2 separate regions of the Homo sapiens genome follow, and region 2 is linked to region 1. Evidence: fine-mapped expression QTL. A gene starts in region 1. The other region holds a variant in brackets. All regions are shown on one strand. Distances are from middle to middle.

What was found.
Region 2: its variant is fine-mapped to the expression of CD9 in whole blood (INTERVAL, PIP above 0.99).

The regions. Positions count from the first base shown.
Region 1 is chr12:6,196,756-6,205,081 of GRCh38, reverse strand. It overlaps CD9 (CD9 molecule), which reads right to left and starts at 4,682. Exons shown (of 8, transcript NM_001769.4): 1 at 4,517-4,682. The coding sequence starts at 4,582. RefSeq lists enhancers at 2,135-2,746, 2,747-3,359, 4,586-5,197, 5,198-5,810.
Region 2 is chr12:6,137,724-6,146,049 of GRCh38, reverse strand. No RefSeq gene overlaps it. Among named protein-coding and RNA genes, the nearest start is that of VWF, 17 kb to the right of the region's middle. RefSeq lists an enhancer at 3,146-3,703. The variant G/C (reference allele first, on the strand shown) is at 3,666.

The DNA.
Region 1 (8,326 bases):
GACCATGGGGAGGGGCTTTTGCCACTGCCACCCAACTTGTCCATGCCCTGCCCAGATCCGGAATCCTGATCCTTAGGGTTTCTCTGACAGGCAATTTTATTTTCAGAAGCGGGGCCTTCCCGCAGCCAAATGAGCAGTAGCAACCCATGAAATGGAGTCAGGGTTTTGATGCACAGGACAAAGTTGGCACTGATACAGGAAGGGGCAGGGAGGCCAGTGTGTGGATTGGGAGGGTCCTCCTGGCCACATCTGCGGTTTAGACTTCCACACTTCTTAGAGAACTGCTCTCACCCTCCCCAGGGCCTCATTCTACTCTCCACTAGTGAATAACAATAGCTACTGTTGGAAGATATGTCTGGTGCAATCTACTATGCTAAGTGCACTACACATACTCCCCATTTAACTCTCACAGCACCATGTGGGGTGGTCACCAGCCCCATCTGGTGATGAGACATGGAACCCAGGACTGGTGCTTTGATCACTAGGCCAAGTACTAAGGTATACGGGCAATGAACACCCCTGAGAGAGACCCCACCCAGGGTGAGGAGAGGGAACTGAGAAGCAACAGCAAAGAAAAGCACCAGCTGGGCTCTTGCTCCAGAGGTAAAGGCCAAGAAAAGCTAAGTTCTGAGGACTCAAGCCTTGGTATCCATCTCCCATTTCCAATTCAGGGCTTGTATTTTGTTTATTATATTATTATTTATAGATTTAGGGGACACGAATGTAGTTTTGTTACACATGGTGAAGTCTGGGCTTTTAATGTGACCATCACCAACATAGTATACATCGTACCCAATATTGGTTCCTATTTTGGGTTGTGTAGGAGAGTTCTATTGTTGTATGTGGTATGTGTAGGGGTGTTGGGTTCATAGACTGAGCTTGAAAGGACCTTTTGAGACCATTTGTTCCAAGCTATTGTTTTACAGATGAGGAAACTGAGGCTTAGAGCACAGAAGTGACCAACCCAAGGTTTCAAAGTGAGTTGAGGACAGAGCTGGGCTCACATCCAGGTCTCTGAATTCCCAGTGTAGGTCTCTGTGTTTCGCACCAGCCTCCCCTAGGTCTAGGGGATATGGTTTCTTGGGAAAGAGACCTCCCAGCCCCACACTGCTGTTTCCATCAGTGAGCGAGGCATGAGAGACAGTAAGCAAAGGGGCTGAGGGAGGTGGGGAGGGGATTGGGCTCTGTCAGTATAGCCAAACCTTTCCCTCTTTTGCCCTAAGGAGTTCCTCCCCTTCTCTGACCAGAAAGAGGGCAGACATGCATGTGTCAGACTGGACTGGCCCTAACCCTGGTTCCCCATTTCAGCTGGAGAAATACTTGTGTGTCTACCACATGGACATCAGCAAGATGTTTTCCCTCTCAACTGTTTTTTGGGGGGTGGGCAGGCGGGCAGGGAGGTCTGAAGGAAATGTAGAAACAATCAAAATAGAGCTAGGAGGGCCGGTTCTGGAGGTGGTGGAAGAACAGACTGATTTGCTGGTTTGGCTGTGGCCATCAGGGAGTGACCCACAGGGATGAGATCAGGCCAGGGAAGAGGCACAGCCCCCCAATAACCATCCTACTCCACTGAGGTTGGCCTCTCTCTGGATGCCTGTTGGACACCCCCTCTCAGCAGCCTCTGTGCAAAGTGCTGCTGGGCACTGGCCTCACAATTCCTGCTTTTCAAGGCCCACATCAGGTTCCGAATGCCAAGTTTATAAATGTCTGGTCTCAAGAGAGAAACGGACGTGGTGACAACATAATCACCCAAGCAGTTCCCTTAGGTTACACCTTTCCTTAAGGGAGTCTTGGGAGCTTCTTCCCACCCTTCTCCCATTCCCACTCAGCAGCCAAAACCAGTTGGGTAAAGTAACCTAGTTCTGAGACCACCCTGCCGCATCACCTTGGATAAGTCACCTAACCTCTCTGGGAAATGGTTTCCTGATCATCAGTACAGTGGGGACAATGCTTCCTGCTCTTGGCTACATCATGGGACTAGAACAAGAAAGGCTCTAAAGACTAACACTCTGCACAAGTGGACCGACCACAGTCTTCCTTTTCATTACATCATCTCCTAGGGATGAGGGCTTCATCTCCACAGGGACCCAGATACAGGACAAATGAACAGTAATTCAGGAAAACATAGCTACTGCCCATCTTCCTGCCTCTGATGAAGATGGAAGAGGACAGAAGTAAAGTAGGGGCCCCAGGAATTGTAATACTGGCTCTGTCTCTGCGATCCTGGGTAAATCACCCCATCTCTCTTCCTCTGCTGCCTCACTATGAATAAGAGAGCTGGACTGCATGATCTTCAAAAGTCATTCCAAACATTTCCAGTGTGAGTGATTTCTGTTTCAGACTACATAGGTCATCAGCTGCACCTAGGCTGGGGCCAGGCATAGGGGGTTCTGAATACGAGTGGGGTGGCAGGCTGAGGACAGTACGGACAGATTGCAGGCCAGCAGGCCACAGACAGAGTAGATACCAGTGGCCCTGTGAGCCTCGCATCAGCTTCCTGCATATGCCATGGGGCAGATGGGGGTAGGGAGGCACACTGTGGCAGTCTGTGTTTCCCTGCAGTCCCAAACCTGGATGCAGTCTAGGCAGACAGCTGAGGACTAACCAACACACCAGCCGGGAGAGACTGTACCTGGGAGGGGAGAGGAAAACTCCCAAAGTTCAAGGGTGGGTGAGGCCAGCTGCCTTCCCGCATACTTTTCTGCTGCCAGGGATTGGTGAAAGAAAGAAGCTAAGCGTGGCAGCTGGGTGGTTGCTGGGGTGGGTGGCAACACAGGAGGAGGGGTGCCCACGGCCAGCAGGGTCTTTTTAAAGCAAGTCAAGGGTTGGGAAGGAGCACACCTATATGCCGTCCTCACTGGGGTGTGTGTTATGGTGACTGATGCACTGGGGGAAGTCAGTCTCTGCAAATTGGAAAAACTGTTCAACCACCCCTTCAGCTCTGGGGAGGAGTGAATCTTAGAAGATTTCCCTAAGGAGGCTTGTGGGGACCTCAGTGACCAGCTCCAGGGGGAATAAGTGCATTTGTTTCTTTTCTACTTTTTTTGAGACAGGGCTCACTAGGTCACCCAGGCTAAGTGCAGTGGTGCAATCATGACTCACCGCAGCCTTGACCTCCCAGGCTCATGCCATCCTCTCATCTCAGCCTCCTGAGTAGCTGCGATCACAGGTGCATGCCAACACGCCCAGCTAATTTTTTATTTTTTTGTGGAGATGGGGGTCTCACTATGTTACCCAGGCTGGTCTTGAACCTGGATGAAAGCGATCCTCCTGCCTCAGCCTCCCAAAGTGCTGGGATTACAGGCATGAGCCACTGTGCCTGGCCAAGTGCACTTTTTTGTTACAAGACTCTGGTGGCATGCACCTGTTTCTACATCCATCTATCTTGAGAGTGGCATAGAGACTCTCTTCCTGCCTGCAGAGCGGCAAGTATTGTCATGTGTGTGCAGGGAATGTGGCTATAGAAACAAGGACACAAGGGTTTCCTATTCCTTGCTTCTGTCGCCTCTCAGCCTTCCCATTTGTAGAGGCTGAGTGGCCTGCAGCAGGTGTCTCTGGAGCTCCTGGCCCCGCTGGCCTCTCCAGATGAACGTCCGCTCTGCGCCCTGCCTGGCCTTGGGTGGGCCGCCTGGGCTGGCGGGGAGGGGAGAGGGCAAGGCCAAGGCTCTCCTGGGCGGGCAGCTGGCTGGCACCTGATCTCTCCCGGAAATGCACACACAGGACTCATCCCACTAGAGGCGCAGATAGGTATCTGCCCCCTCCTCTCCCGAACTCTGAGTTCTCTCCAGTGAAGATACTTATCGTCCTTGAAAGAAATCAAGACAAGCTAGTCTTTCAGGGAGCTACCAGGGAGTTCGGCGCTCTCACGGTGGCTCAGAATCAAAGTCTGAGGGAACGGGGGCCTGCGAGGTTCCTCCTCAAGGGTGGAGGGGCCCCCGACTCTCAGGGACTGGGTCCCGGGGCCGGACCCGCGGCCGAGGCACCCCTGCCGCTCCTGCGTAAAAGTGAGAGCCGCTCTTGGCTGAGCTCTCGCCGTGCCCGCACCCTCCCTTCCTGGCGCCCCCTACTACCTGGGAGACCCCACCCGGTCACAAGCCATACTGCTCACCACAGTCCTCCTTGGCCTTGGCCCAAAGAGGGGTGCTCCGCTTCTCCCTGCCTTCCTCTCTGGCACTCGGAGGGACTTGAGCTGGGAGCAGACACACACCCCAGCTCAAATCCTAGGCGAGCTAAAGTGCTCAGGACCCTCCCGCACGCCTCATCTCAAGAGGGCCCGGCTCCCCACGCCGGCTGGGCGGTGATGAGCCCCCACCCGAATGCGCCCGTCGCGGCCGTCCCGCCCGGCTCTGGACCCGGCCTTGGAGCCAGCTGGCAGCCGCAGGGCGCTCTCTCTTCCCGCCCGGTGCCTGCCCGGTGCGGGCAGTGCCAGCTGCCGGCACTCGCGGCCGCGGCCAGTGTCCGGGGCCCGCGAACAGGTGGGCCCTGAGAGGAGCGCGCGGCAGTCGCGCTCACTCACCCAGAAGATGAAGTTAAATCCGAACAGCAGGTATTTGATGCACTTGGTGCCTCCTTTGACCGGCATGGTGAGGGCTAACTTAGCCTGGGCCGAACGGGTGCGGGACTGGGGGGCGCGCGCAGCTGGGACTGGCGGGACCTGGCGCTGGATACAGATGCAGGCGGCTGTAGGCTGGTCTCCGGCTGCACTTTTAAAAAGTGCCACTCCTTAGGGCGCGCGACCCGCTGCGGTGCGCATGTGCCGGGAAAAGCCGCCCCCACTCCCCCCGCCGGCCACGCCTCCCGCCCCACCGGCCCCGCCCGGGCCGCACCCCCCCCGCCCCCCGCCCCCGCCCAGGTCGGCGAGCCCCGGCCCCAGCTGCCCCGCGGAGCCCGACCCTCTCCCTGTTTCCCCGCCTAGTCGCCCTAACCCCCACCCGCCACCCACTCCTTCTTCAAGCCGTCTTGGGGTCTTTGCAGGCAGCCACTCCCTGCCACTTTTACCGCGGACTTACGTGGAGGCCTCGCCCTTCCGGTTCCCCCGCGTTTGGTCTGGGCGCCGGACCGGGCGTTCTGCTTTGGGAGACTCTTCCCCGGGTCGTCAGGGCTAAAGGCCCCTTGGCCAAGGCCTGCTGCCAGAGTGAGGGGCCCTTCTGCTTTGCGAGGATTTAAAGGGAAGCCGCCTGGCTTAATTTCGCCCTCGTCTGTCTCCTTGCAAACCTTCGCTCGCTGACCATACTTTTCATTGGGCACAGCATGTGGGGTAGGAGGAATTAGAAGCGCGCAGTCTGGGTGGGATGACAGATGGGAGGCTTTTGGAAGTAATTAGCAAATACCTATCACCGAATAATAACACAGCTGAGGGCTGGGCAGTCCCCAAGCGCTTCCTGCACTTGAGGTTTAGTTGCCCCAGAGGGAAAAAGGGTCTGTAGACGGCTTCTGTTTTCTCTCTACTCCTCCACCCCACCCTCCCTCCTGCGTCTTTGGACTTGCTCGCTGCTGCCTTGAACTGCTCCAGATGCCGAGCTCGGAGCGCTTCTCCTGAGCTCACAAACTTTCTGTAGCTCTCCAGATTCAAGGACCTAAGTCGAAATTCCTCGTCTTGCCCTCAAGGCCCTGTACAGAGCACTGATCTGACTTCTCCCGGACCCAGAGCCCACCCCACTCGCTGGCCGGCATGCGCCCTGGCTGGCTGGCCCCCCCCCAACGTCACTTGTAGGAATTCTGTGGGTCTTTAAACACTCCTTTCCTGATTCTCTGGAGTGGACGAGGAGAGTCACCTTCTTTTGAAGTCCCCGAATCCCTTTGTATTATTTTCAAAATGAAGTTTCCTTTACTGTCCTTTATGATTACAAAAGCAAGATACAGTCATTACAGAAACAACCGAAATACCAAGAAGTGAAAGGAACAGACCTCAAAATTCTGCTCACCAGAAACAGCCACTGTTAGCACATTGCTGTTATTTGCCTGTTTATTATCAGTAGACTTGTCTCATTGGTTCAAAAACATTTTTCAGTATCTATTAGGGTATTTCATTAGGGGTAGGAGCTGAAAAACATGGATTAGTCCTTGTTTCTGCTCAGGGACCAGTGTGGGAGGAGACAGGCAGCCAGACAATGGTTTGAGGGTGATAGGTGCAGTTACGGGGAGAGGCTTGGGGGCTAAGAGGCTAAGGAGAGGCCTCTGACCCAGACTGGGAGATGATGCTGCAGAACCACAGGGAAAGTTGCCGCCAAGGGAGAATCCTGGGCAAAGGCTGGGGCAGGGGCTGTCCGGGCTCTGGGCTGGAGCCTGGAGTCACGGGGTAGTTTGTGGGAAGGTGAGAAAGAGCCTTGTGCTCCTGGACTTTGCACTCTGAGCATTAGGGGCCACCGAAAGGTTCAAGCAGGGGAATGGTTGGATCTGCTGTGTTTTCAGAGGTTCTCTGCCTGTGTTTTAGGTAGTTGGGTGGGGGAAGGCCGGAGGGGCAGGTAGGAAGCCCCTTGAGGACCAGGACCATTGTTGGCATCTCCAGTCCTTGGCTCAGTGCTTTACGGGATTGCATGGAACATGGAGATGTTGTATTTGGGGAGACGCAATCAGGTAATATGAGGGGAGCAGTGGTAGATGAAAGTTGAGCTGAGGACCAGGTGCAAATCTGCTAGGAGGCTGTGGAGTAGTTCAGGTGAGAGAAGAATGAATGAAGGCGGGGCAATGGGATAAAGCCTAGAGAAGGCAGGGCAAAACCCCATGAGGTGTCAGGCCGGGAAGGGGAGGGAGAGATCAGAGGCAGAGCAGCAGAAGCTAGTAACAAGTAGGGGCACAGGGCACATCCCCACGTCAATCTGAGTCCGAGAGGCTCCCCAGAGCAGGGGACATTGCAGCAGCTGACTTGACTTGGGAAGGTGGAGTCAGTAGTCAATGCGGAGGAGGGAATTCCAAGAGGGAACTGGATATGCAAAGACACAGAAGCGGGCAGCTGGCTGCACTGGGGAAACAACCGATAGTGGTACATGGGGAGGAAGGAGGACAAGGAAGGAGAGGCAGGGCCTAAACTGAGCCTAATGCCAAGAGGACAAGCAGAGGAATTTTGGTGATGCTTGACTTTACACATCCTAACCAGTGTCCAGGATGATTCCAGCACAGGGGAGGAGTGTGAAGCACCCTGGAGGGTGGGAAGGAGGCCGGAAAACAGTCAGTGTTCCATTGTGCCCTTTTGGGCCTGCGTCCATCTATCTTGGGAGACAGGTCTTAGGAAAAGAAAGATTTTATTGCATCTCCCCCTTCTCCCAAGTTAACAAGTACTGGTGGGAGGAGTTCAGTAAATATTTAAGTTTATAATAGAAATTACTTATTAGGGTAAACGTGAGTGTTGACAGAGGAAATCCACAGGGAGGCCTTAGAACCTGCCTGCCACAGAAGCGCTGCAGAAACGCTGCCTGTTGCTCCTATTCCTATTATTGTTTACACTGAAGAAAGAATTGGGGTCAGCCTATATAGTTCAGTGCCACATTCGTATAATCAAGGCATCCTTTTTATGTGATGAGAGCATTGGGCCTGAAGTGAGGGGGTCTGAGTTCTACTCTTGGTTCTGACCCTTTGGTCTATGTTAGGCAGGCAGCCTCCTCTCTGGGCCTCAGTCTCCTCACCTGTACAAGAGTATTGTGAAAGGAAAATAAATCTTAGGACCCCAAAATCAATAAGCCAAAGGAAAAAATCAAGCTGGGAACTGCCACAGGCAAACCTGCCTCCCATTCCTAAATAAGATAGCTACAAAGATTTTTTAAAAAGCTATGCACTTCTCGGCCGGGCGCAGTGGCTCACGCCTGTAATCCCAGCACTTTGGGAGGCCAAGGTGGGCGGATCACGAGGTGAGGAGATCGAGACCATCCTGGCCAACATAGTGAAACCGCATCTCTACTAAAAATACAAAAATTAGCCAGGCATGGTGGCGCATACCTATAATCCCAGCTACTCGGGAGGCAGAGGCAGGAGAATCCCTTGAACCAGGGAGTTGGAGGTTGCAGTGAGCCGAGATCGCGCCACAGCACTCTAGCCTGGCGACAGAGTGAGACTCCGTCTCAAAAAGAAAAAACAAAAAAAGCTATGCACTTCTTGTTGGGCGCTGTGACTCACACCTGTGATCCAAGCACTTTAGGAGGCCGACGCGGGAGGATCATGAGGTCAGGAGATCAAGACCATCCTGGCTAACACGGTGAAACCTCGTCTCTACTAAAAATACAAAAAAATTAGCCGGGCGTGGCGGCGGGCGCCTGTAGTCCCAGCTACTCAGGAGGCTGAGGCAGGAGAATGGCGTGAACCCGGGAGGCAGAGCTTGCAGTGAGCCGAGATC
Region 2 (8,326 bases), 59 kb after region 1:
AGACGAGGTTTCTCCATGATGGTCAGGCTGGTCTCGAACTCCTGACCTCAGGTGATCTGCCTGCCTCAGCCTCCCAAAGTGTTGGGATTAGAGGCATGAGCCGCTGCACCTGGCCAGAAAAAAATCTTTAATCCTGCAGCTGAGGAGTGGAGATGGGAGCCCAGTCTCAAACCCATCTCCCTGACCTACAAAAAGTAAGGGTTTATGTAGCAGGGAAGAAATGTAACAATGCCTACGAAAACAGGAACTAGGGAGGGGCAAGGAAACAATCATGATGAATGAGGGGTCTGGGCATTTCCTTGTCTGGATGTGGTGATCTGGTGAGTTTCAGTTCTTTGATACTTTTTTTTAGAGGCCTGAAGGTCTTTTCCTGAGGAGGGAACTCAGATAAAACAAATTAAGTTTTTCAAGCTTTAAGACTAGAAAAAAGGCCGGGCGTGGTGGCTTTAAGACTAGAAAAAAGGCCGGGCGCGGTGGCTCACGCCTGTAATCCCAGCACTTTGGGAGGCCGAGGCAGGAGGATCACGAGGTCAGGGATCGAGACCACCCTGGCAAAGACGGTGAAACCCCATCTCTACTAAAAATACAAACAATTACCCGGGCGTGGTGGCAGGCGCCTGTAATCCCAGCTACTCGGGAGGCTGAGGCAGGAGAATGGCGTGAACCCGGGAGGCGGAGCTTGCAGTGAGCTGAGATCGCGCCTCTGCCCTCCAGCCTGGGCGACAGAGCGAGACTCCGTCTCAAAAAAAGAAAAAAAAAAAAAAAAAAAGACTAGAAAACAAAGACTAGAAAAGTCAATTTCGATGCTTATCCAAAAAAAAAAAAAAAACCTATCTATGGGATGATTGGGTCGGTTTCATTATAAACACAACCACACTCCTCTCATAGTCCCTCAGCCTCTCCCCTGTCCCTAGCCCTAATCTGTTCTCCATTTCTGTAATTTATATAAATGAAATTATACAGGATATAACCTTTGGGGATTGGCTGTTTTTCACTCAGCATAATTCCCTGGAGATTCATCCACGTTGCGTGTATCAGTAATTTGTTCTCTTTTTTTTTTTTTGAGACGGAGTCTCCGTCTGTCGCCCAGGCTGGAGTGCAGTGACGCGATCTCGGCTCACTGCAAGCTCCGCCTCCCGGGTTCACGCCATTCTCCTGCCTCAGCCTCCCGAGTAGCTGGGACTACAGGCGCCCGCCACCACGCCCAGCTAATTTTTTATAGTTTTAGTAGAGACGGGGTTTCACCGTGTTAGCCAGAATGGTCTGGATTTCCTGACCTCGTGACCCGCCCGCCTCGGCCTCCCAAAGTGCTGGGATTACAAGCATGAGCCACCGCGCCCAGCCTCTTCCAGTTTTTGTCATTGCAAATAAAGCTTCTGTGAACATTTGGCCGGGCGCGGTGGCTCACGCCTGTAATCCCAACACTTTGAGAGGCCGAGGCGGGCGGATCACGAGGCTAGGAGATCGAGACCATCCTGGCTAACACGGTGAAAACCCGTGTCTACTAAAAATACAAAAAATTAGCCGGGCATGGTGGTGGCGGGTGCCTGTAGTCCCAGCTACGCAGGAGGCTGAGGCAGGAGAATGGCATGAACCGAGATCGCGCCACTGCACTCCAGCCTGGGTGACAGAGCGAGATTCTCTCTCAAAAAAAAAAAAAAAAACCTTCTGTGAACATTCACGTACAATATTTAACATGAAACTATTTAGATTTCTCTGGCATAAATGCCCAAAAATGCAATAATAGGGTTTAACCATTGTTTTTTGTTTTTGTTTGAGACAGAGTCTCACTCAGTCACCCGTTCTGGAGTGTAGTGGCACTATCTTGGCTCACTGCAACCTCCGCCTCCCAGGTTCAAGCAGTTCTCCTTCCTCAGCCTCCCAAGTAGCTGGGATTACAGGTGCACGCCAAAATGCCTAGCTAATTTTTTTTTTTTTGTATTTTTAGTAGAGATGGGGTTTTACCATGTTGGCCAGGCTTGTCTCGAACTCCTGACCTCAAGTGATCCGCCCACCTCGGCCTGCCAAAGTGCTGGGATTACAGGTGTGAGCCACCGGGCCAGCCCGTTTGTTTGCTTTTTGAGACAGGGTCTTACTCTGTTGTCCAGGCTGGAATGCAGTGGTGCTGAGGTAGGAGGCAGGATCTTACTCTGGACCAGATTGAAGATTGGCTGAAACAGGGAAGAGGCGGGGAAAACACCTCTCCATGACATGCCCACCAGTTGGCTGGGCATGGTGGCTCCCGCCTGTAATCGTAGCACTTTGGGAGGTAGAGGTGGGCGGACCACTTGAGGTCAAGAGTTTGAGACCAGCCTGGCCAACATGGTGAAACCCCATCTCTACTAAAAATACAAAAATTAGTAGGGCGTGGTGGTGGGCACCTGTAATCCCAGCTACTCAGGAGGCCGAGGCCAGAGAATCACTTGAACCTGGGAGACAGATGTTGCAGTGAGCTGAGATTGCACCATTGCACTCTAGCCTATGAGACAGAGCAAGACTCCAGCTGGGGGGGGGGGGGGGGGGGAAAGACCTGACAACCAATTCCATGTCAGTTTACCATTGCCATGGCAACACACAGAAGTTACCACCTCTTTTCATGGCAACCACGTGAAAGTTACCACCATTTTTCTAGAAATTTCTGAATAACCCATACTGCGTCTGGAATTGGTGGGTTCTTGGTCTCACTGACTTCAAGAATGAAGCCACAGACCCTCGTAGTTAACAGCTCTTAAAGTGGCACATCTGGAGTCTGTGTCTTCTGACTTTCAGATGTGTTCAGAGTTTCTTCCTTCTGGTGGGTTCATGATCTCCCTGGCTCAGGATTGAAGCTGCAGACCTTTGCGGTGGGCGTTACCACTCTTAAGGCAGTGCATCTGGAGTTGTTCGTTCCTCCCGGTGGGCTCGTGGTTTTGCTGGCCTCAGGAGTGAAGCTGCAGATCTTCACGGTGAGAGTTACAGATCTTAAAAGCAGTGTGCACCCAGAGTGAGCAATAGCAAGATTTATTGCAAAGAGCAAAAGAACGAAGCCTTCACACTGTGGAAGGGGACCGGAGCGGGTTGCCAATGCTGGCTCCGGCAGCCTGCTTTTATTCTCTTATCTGGCCCCACCCACATGCTGCTGATTGGTAGAGCCGAGTGGCCTGTTTTAACAGGGCGCTGATTGGTGCGTTTACAATCCTTGAGCTAGATACAAAGGTTCTCCACGTCCCCATCAGATTAGTTAGATACAGAGTTTCCACACAGAGGTTGTCCAAGGCCCCAGCAGAGCAGCTAGATACAGAGTGTCGATTGGTGCACTCACAAATCTTGAGCTAGACACAGGGTGCTGATTGGTGTGTTTACAATCCCTGAGCTAGATATAAAAACTCTCCACGTCCCCACCAGACTCAGGAGCCCAGCTGGCTTCACCTAGTGGATCCCGCACCTGGGGCTGCAGGTGGAGCTGCCTGCCAGTCCCGCGCTGTGCGCTCTCATTCCTCAGCTCTTGGGTGGTCGATGGGACTGGGCGCCGTGGAGCAGGGGGTGGTGCTCGTCGGGGAGGCTTGGGCCACACGGGAGCCCATGGAGTGGGTGGGAGGCTCAGGCATGGCAGGCTGCAGGTCCCGAGCCCTGCCCCGCGGGAAGGCAGCTAAGGCCCGGCGAGAAATCGAGCGCAGCGCCGGTGG[G/C]CCAGCACTGCTGGGGGACCCAGTACACCCTCCACAGCTGCTGGCCCGGGTGCTAAGTCCCTCATTGCCCGGGGCCAGCAGGGCTGGCCGGCTGCTCTGAGTGTGGGGCCCGCCAAGCCCACGCCCACCCGGAACTCCAGCTGACTCGCAAGCGCGGCACGCAGCCCTGCTTCCTGCTCGCGCCTCTCCCTCCACACCTCCCTGCAAGCTGAGGGAGCGGGCTCCAGCCTTGGCCAGCCCAGAAAGTGGCTCCCACAGTGCAGTGGGGGGCTGAAGGGCTCCTCAAATGCCGCCAAAGTGGGAGCCCAGGCAGGGGAGGTGCTGAGAGCAAGCAAGGGCTCTGAGGACTGCCAGCACGCTGTCACCTCTCAATACCTTAACTTGCAAGTAATTGAAAGTGGGTATATGTATGACTGTTGACCTGCCCCTGAGCTGGTGCTCTCAACACATTGCCTAGGGGTTAGCCCTGCTCTGCAGGAGTAGTCATAAAGTTGTCACACTGCTGCCTCCATAAAGCTGTTTTCTTCTACCACCAGCTGGCTCTTGAATTCTTTCCTGAGCAAAGCCAAGAATCTTCCAGGGCTAAGTCCCAATTTGGGAGCTTACTTGCCCTGCATCAGTGCAATCATAGCTCACTGCAGCCTGGAACTTCGGGGCTCAAGCAATCCTCCTGCCTGAGCCTCCTGAATAGCTAAGATGACAGATGTGTGCCACTACACCTGGCTAATTTTTTCTTTTTTTTGTAGACATGAGGTCTCACTTTGTTGCCTAGGCTGATCATTGTTTTTAAAATTTCTATCTTTACTGATTTTTATCTGCCTGACCTATGGATAATTGAGAAAGCCTTTTTGAAGTCAATTGTCAATTTATGTATTTTGAAGCTATTTTGTAAGATGCATATAAATTTGAGTTGCTGTAACTTTCTGCCTCTCAAATTAGAACCCCAGGTCTTGAGATAGTGATTCTGGGGTCAGGAATCCTGCTGTGCTACTACTGGGGCCAGGAATGCCACCAGATGTAATGGTCTGAGTTCTCTGTAGCTCGATAGCAGCAATAATGTGGTGTCATTGTTCCTGAGAACCAGGGAAGATGAGTCTGAAGCTGCACCATTCTTCTGACATTGTAGCGTGGGTGGGTCCTCTCTATTTTGATGATTGTGAAGGAAGTGAGCATGTTATTCTTGCACAAGATGTTTGTCTTTAGAAGAGAGGAAGTAGAGGAGGACAGCTTCCTCTCCGCTGGGGGCTACAGCTTTATGCTGGGAGCTGGTCGTCTGGCCTAAGAAATACTGCTGTGTTTATTTATTTGGCGCATACTGCCAAGAAAATTCTCTTTCCTGCAGAATTTACGTAAGAGAGATGCTACAAATATACAAAGAAAAGACAAAGATGGGTCCTCCTAGAAAACCTTTCCTCCCCTGAGGTTCTTTTGCTTTTGTACTAGTTACCTGGAGAACTTACTCCTCAGACAGGCAGAGGTCAATTTACCCATCCCCCTGCCTCTGAGCAGCCCTGCCCCATGCGCCCCCAGAGGTCACGCACCCTTCCCATTTGTACTTAATGCTGTTTACATCAGCCCAAGTTCTAATGGCTCTCATACTGTGGTCCTCAGGGATCCTTCTTCCTTGAGCCTCACAGCACTAATTGTCCTCTAACTTATTTGGCAAAGCTGCCTTGGGACACCCTCCATGAGGGCAAGGGAGCAGGTTGTGTGGCATGATATCTTGGCCTATATTAGTTTTCTATTGCTGCAGTGACAAATGACCACAAGCTTAGTGGCCTGAAACAACACAAATTTATCTTACAATTCGTAATTGTAAGAAGCTCGAATTGGATCAAAATCAAGGTGTGTTGGAAGAGCTGGATTCCTTCTGTAGGTTCTATGGGAGAACCTGTTCTTCGCCTCTATCCACTTCCAGGGGCACACATTCCTTGCCTCGTGGCCCCGCGTTGCATGACCTCTGCTCGCATCATCACATCTCCTTCCCTGATGCTGACCCTCCTGCTCCTCTTATAAAAACTCTTGTGATTATATCGGCCCAGCAGGATACTCTGGGGTAAGCCAGGATCATCTCCCCATCTCAAGACCCTTAACTTGCTCACATCTGCAAAATCCCTTTTGCCATGTAAGGTAGCATTCAGAGGTTTGAGATGGGATGTAGACATCTTTGGCTGTTCTTCTGCTACCGTAATGTGTTACGTGGTTGGCTGTATCTGCTCTTCTCTTGTCAAACCCATGGTCTCCTCCAGGCCCTCGTCTTCCCTGTCCGGGAAGGTTCCACCAACCACTAATGGATCTCCCTTTCTCCATCTGACCTCTCACAATACATGCCACTGCTGCCAGAGGGCCTCATCTGGTGTCACAGGATGAACATAAACCCCTACACTGGTTGAAGGTCCCTGAGGACTTGCCTCTTATTCCTCTCTTTGGTCTCTTTTCCTGTGAGTCTCCTTTATAGGCTGTAACAACTGGCTTATTCACCTACTTACTGATTTAGCATCTCAGAGCTTGCCTGCTTCTAAGCTTTTACTTCCTTCCTTGCAGCTGATGTGCCTTTGCCCTCATTTTCACCTGGCAAAATCCTACTCAGCAAATGGGTAATTAAACCATTGCAACCATTATAAACCATTGCAATTTTTCAGGGGGGCCATTTGGCCTTATTGTCAAAGGCCTCACTGAAAATGTGGACGGTGGCTGACCCAGTGCTCCACATGTAGGATTTCATCCTGTGGGAGTAATCCTGAGGGTTGTGCATGGATATAGCTTCAAAGATGTTCACTGCAGCATTGTTAATTAAAAAAAAAAAAAAGTAGGCCGGGAGTGGTGGCTCACGCCTGTAATCCCAGCACTTTGGGAGGCAGAGGCGGGCGGATCACGAGGTCAGGAGATTGAGGCCATCCTGGTTAACGCGGTGAAACCCTGTCTCTACTAAAAATACAAAAAATTAGCCGGGTGTAGTGGCGGGTGCCTGTAGTCCCAGCTACTCGGGAGGCTGAGGCAGGAGAATGGCATGAACCCAGGAGGTGGAGCTTGCAGTGAGCCGAGATTGCGCCACTGCACTCCAGCCTGGGTGACAGAGCGAGACTGCATCTCAAAAAAAAAAAAAAAAAAAAAAAAGTAGCACTAACCTAAATAAATATCCCATAATATGGAACTGGTTACATAAATTGTGGAATATCAGTAAGTGAACTATTCCAGCCAAGTGTGTTATACTCTGATAAAACAGACACTTGAGTGTTATTTAGAAATAGTGCCAGAGTGTCATATGAGTTACAGGCGCAGAATACCACATGGGAACGTGACCCCAGTCTGATGTCCCTGCCCCCTTGCAGAGCCATCCTGTGACTTTCACCGTGCAATTTCCCCAACCACAGTGACGAGTGCTATCTTCTGTGCTGATGATTTGGAGAGCAGGCAACAACTTCCTTGGGTATTAAGCAATTTTTTTTATCTGCAGTTTCAGTTCTGTAGCTACATTTTAATATTATATGCTAATTAACCCACATCATTGTTCTACTAGCAGGGAGTTCAACAGACATTTATGGAGCACTTACCATGTGCTATGCTCCAGACAGAGCACTTTGGAAGATACAGAGATGAGTAAGGCAAGGTCTTGTTCTAAGGAGAGCTCAGACTGGAGGAGATAAGACAAACAAAAATGCATGAAAAGGCTGGGAGCGGTGGCTCATGCCCATAATCCTAACACTTTGGGAGGACGAGGCGGGCAGATCACGAGGTCAGGAGATCAAGACCATCCTGGTAACACGGTGAAACCTCGTCTCTACTAAAAATATAAAAACAAAAAATTAGCTGAGTGTGGCGGTGGGCGTCTGTAGTCCCAGCTACTCGGGAGGCTGAGGTGGGAGAATGGCGTGAACCAGGGAGGCAGAGGTTGCAGTGAACCAAGATCGCGCCATTGCACTCCAGCCTGGGCAACAGAGCGAGACTCCGTCTCAAAAAAAAGAAAAATGCATGAAAAGATGAGAGGGCCACAGAAGCACCCAGAGGTGGTTCAAAGGCAGGAAAAGCGGGGGTGAAGGGTGGGAGGAAAGGAGAAAAGGCTTATGGAAGAGTTATAGGTATAGTGGAGAAAACACGGACTTTGTAATCAGGTAGATTCAGATGCTGGCTGCCTTTGGTAGCAGTGTGATCCTAGGCAAGGCCCTTACCCTGTCTGAGCCTCAGCATCCTCAACTATAAAATGAGAGTAACGCTCTCTTTCCCTCAAACGGTTGTTAGAAGGTACAGTGGATTGAATGGTGACCCCCAAAAGACATGTCCACATTCTAACTCCTGGACCCTGTGAATGTGACCTTACTTGGAAAAAGGCTTTTTGCAGATGTAATTAAGGATGTCAAGATAGATCACCCTAGATTACTAGATCCTTAGGCGGGGTGTGGTGGCTCACGCCTGTAATCCCAGCACTTTGGGAGGCCGAAGTGGGCAGATCACTTGAGGCCAGGAGTTTGAGACCAGACTGGCTAACATGGCAAAACCCTGTCTACTAAAAATACCAAAAAAAAAAAAAAAAAAAAAAAAGGCTGGGTGTGGTGGTGGTGCCTGTAATCCCAGCTACTCGGGAGGCTGAGGCAGGAGAATCACTTGAACCTCGGAGGTGAAGGCTGCAGTGAGTCAAGATTGTGCCACTGCAATCCAGCCTG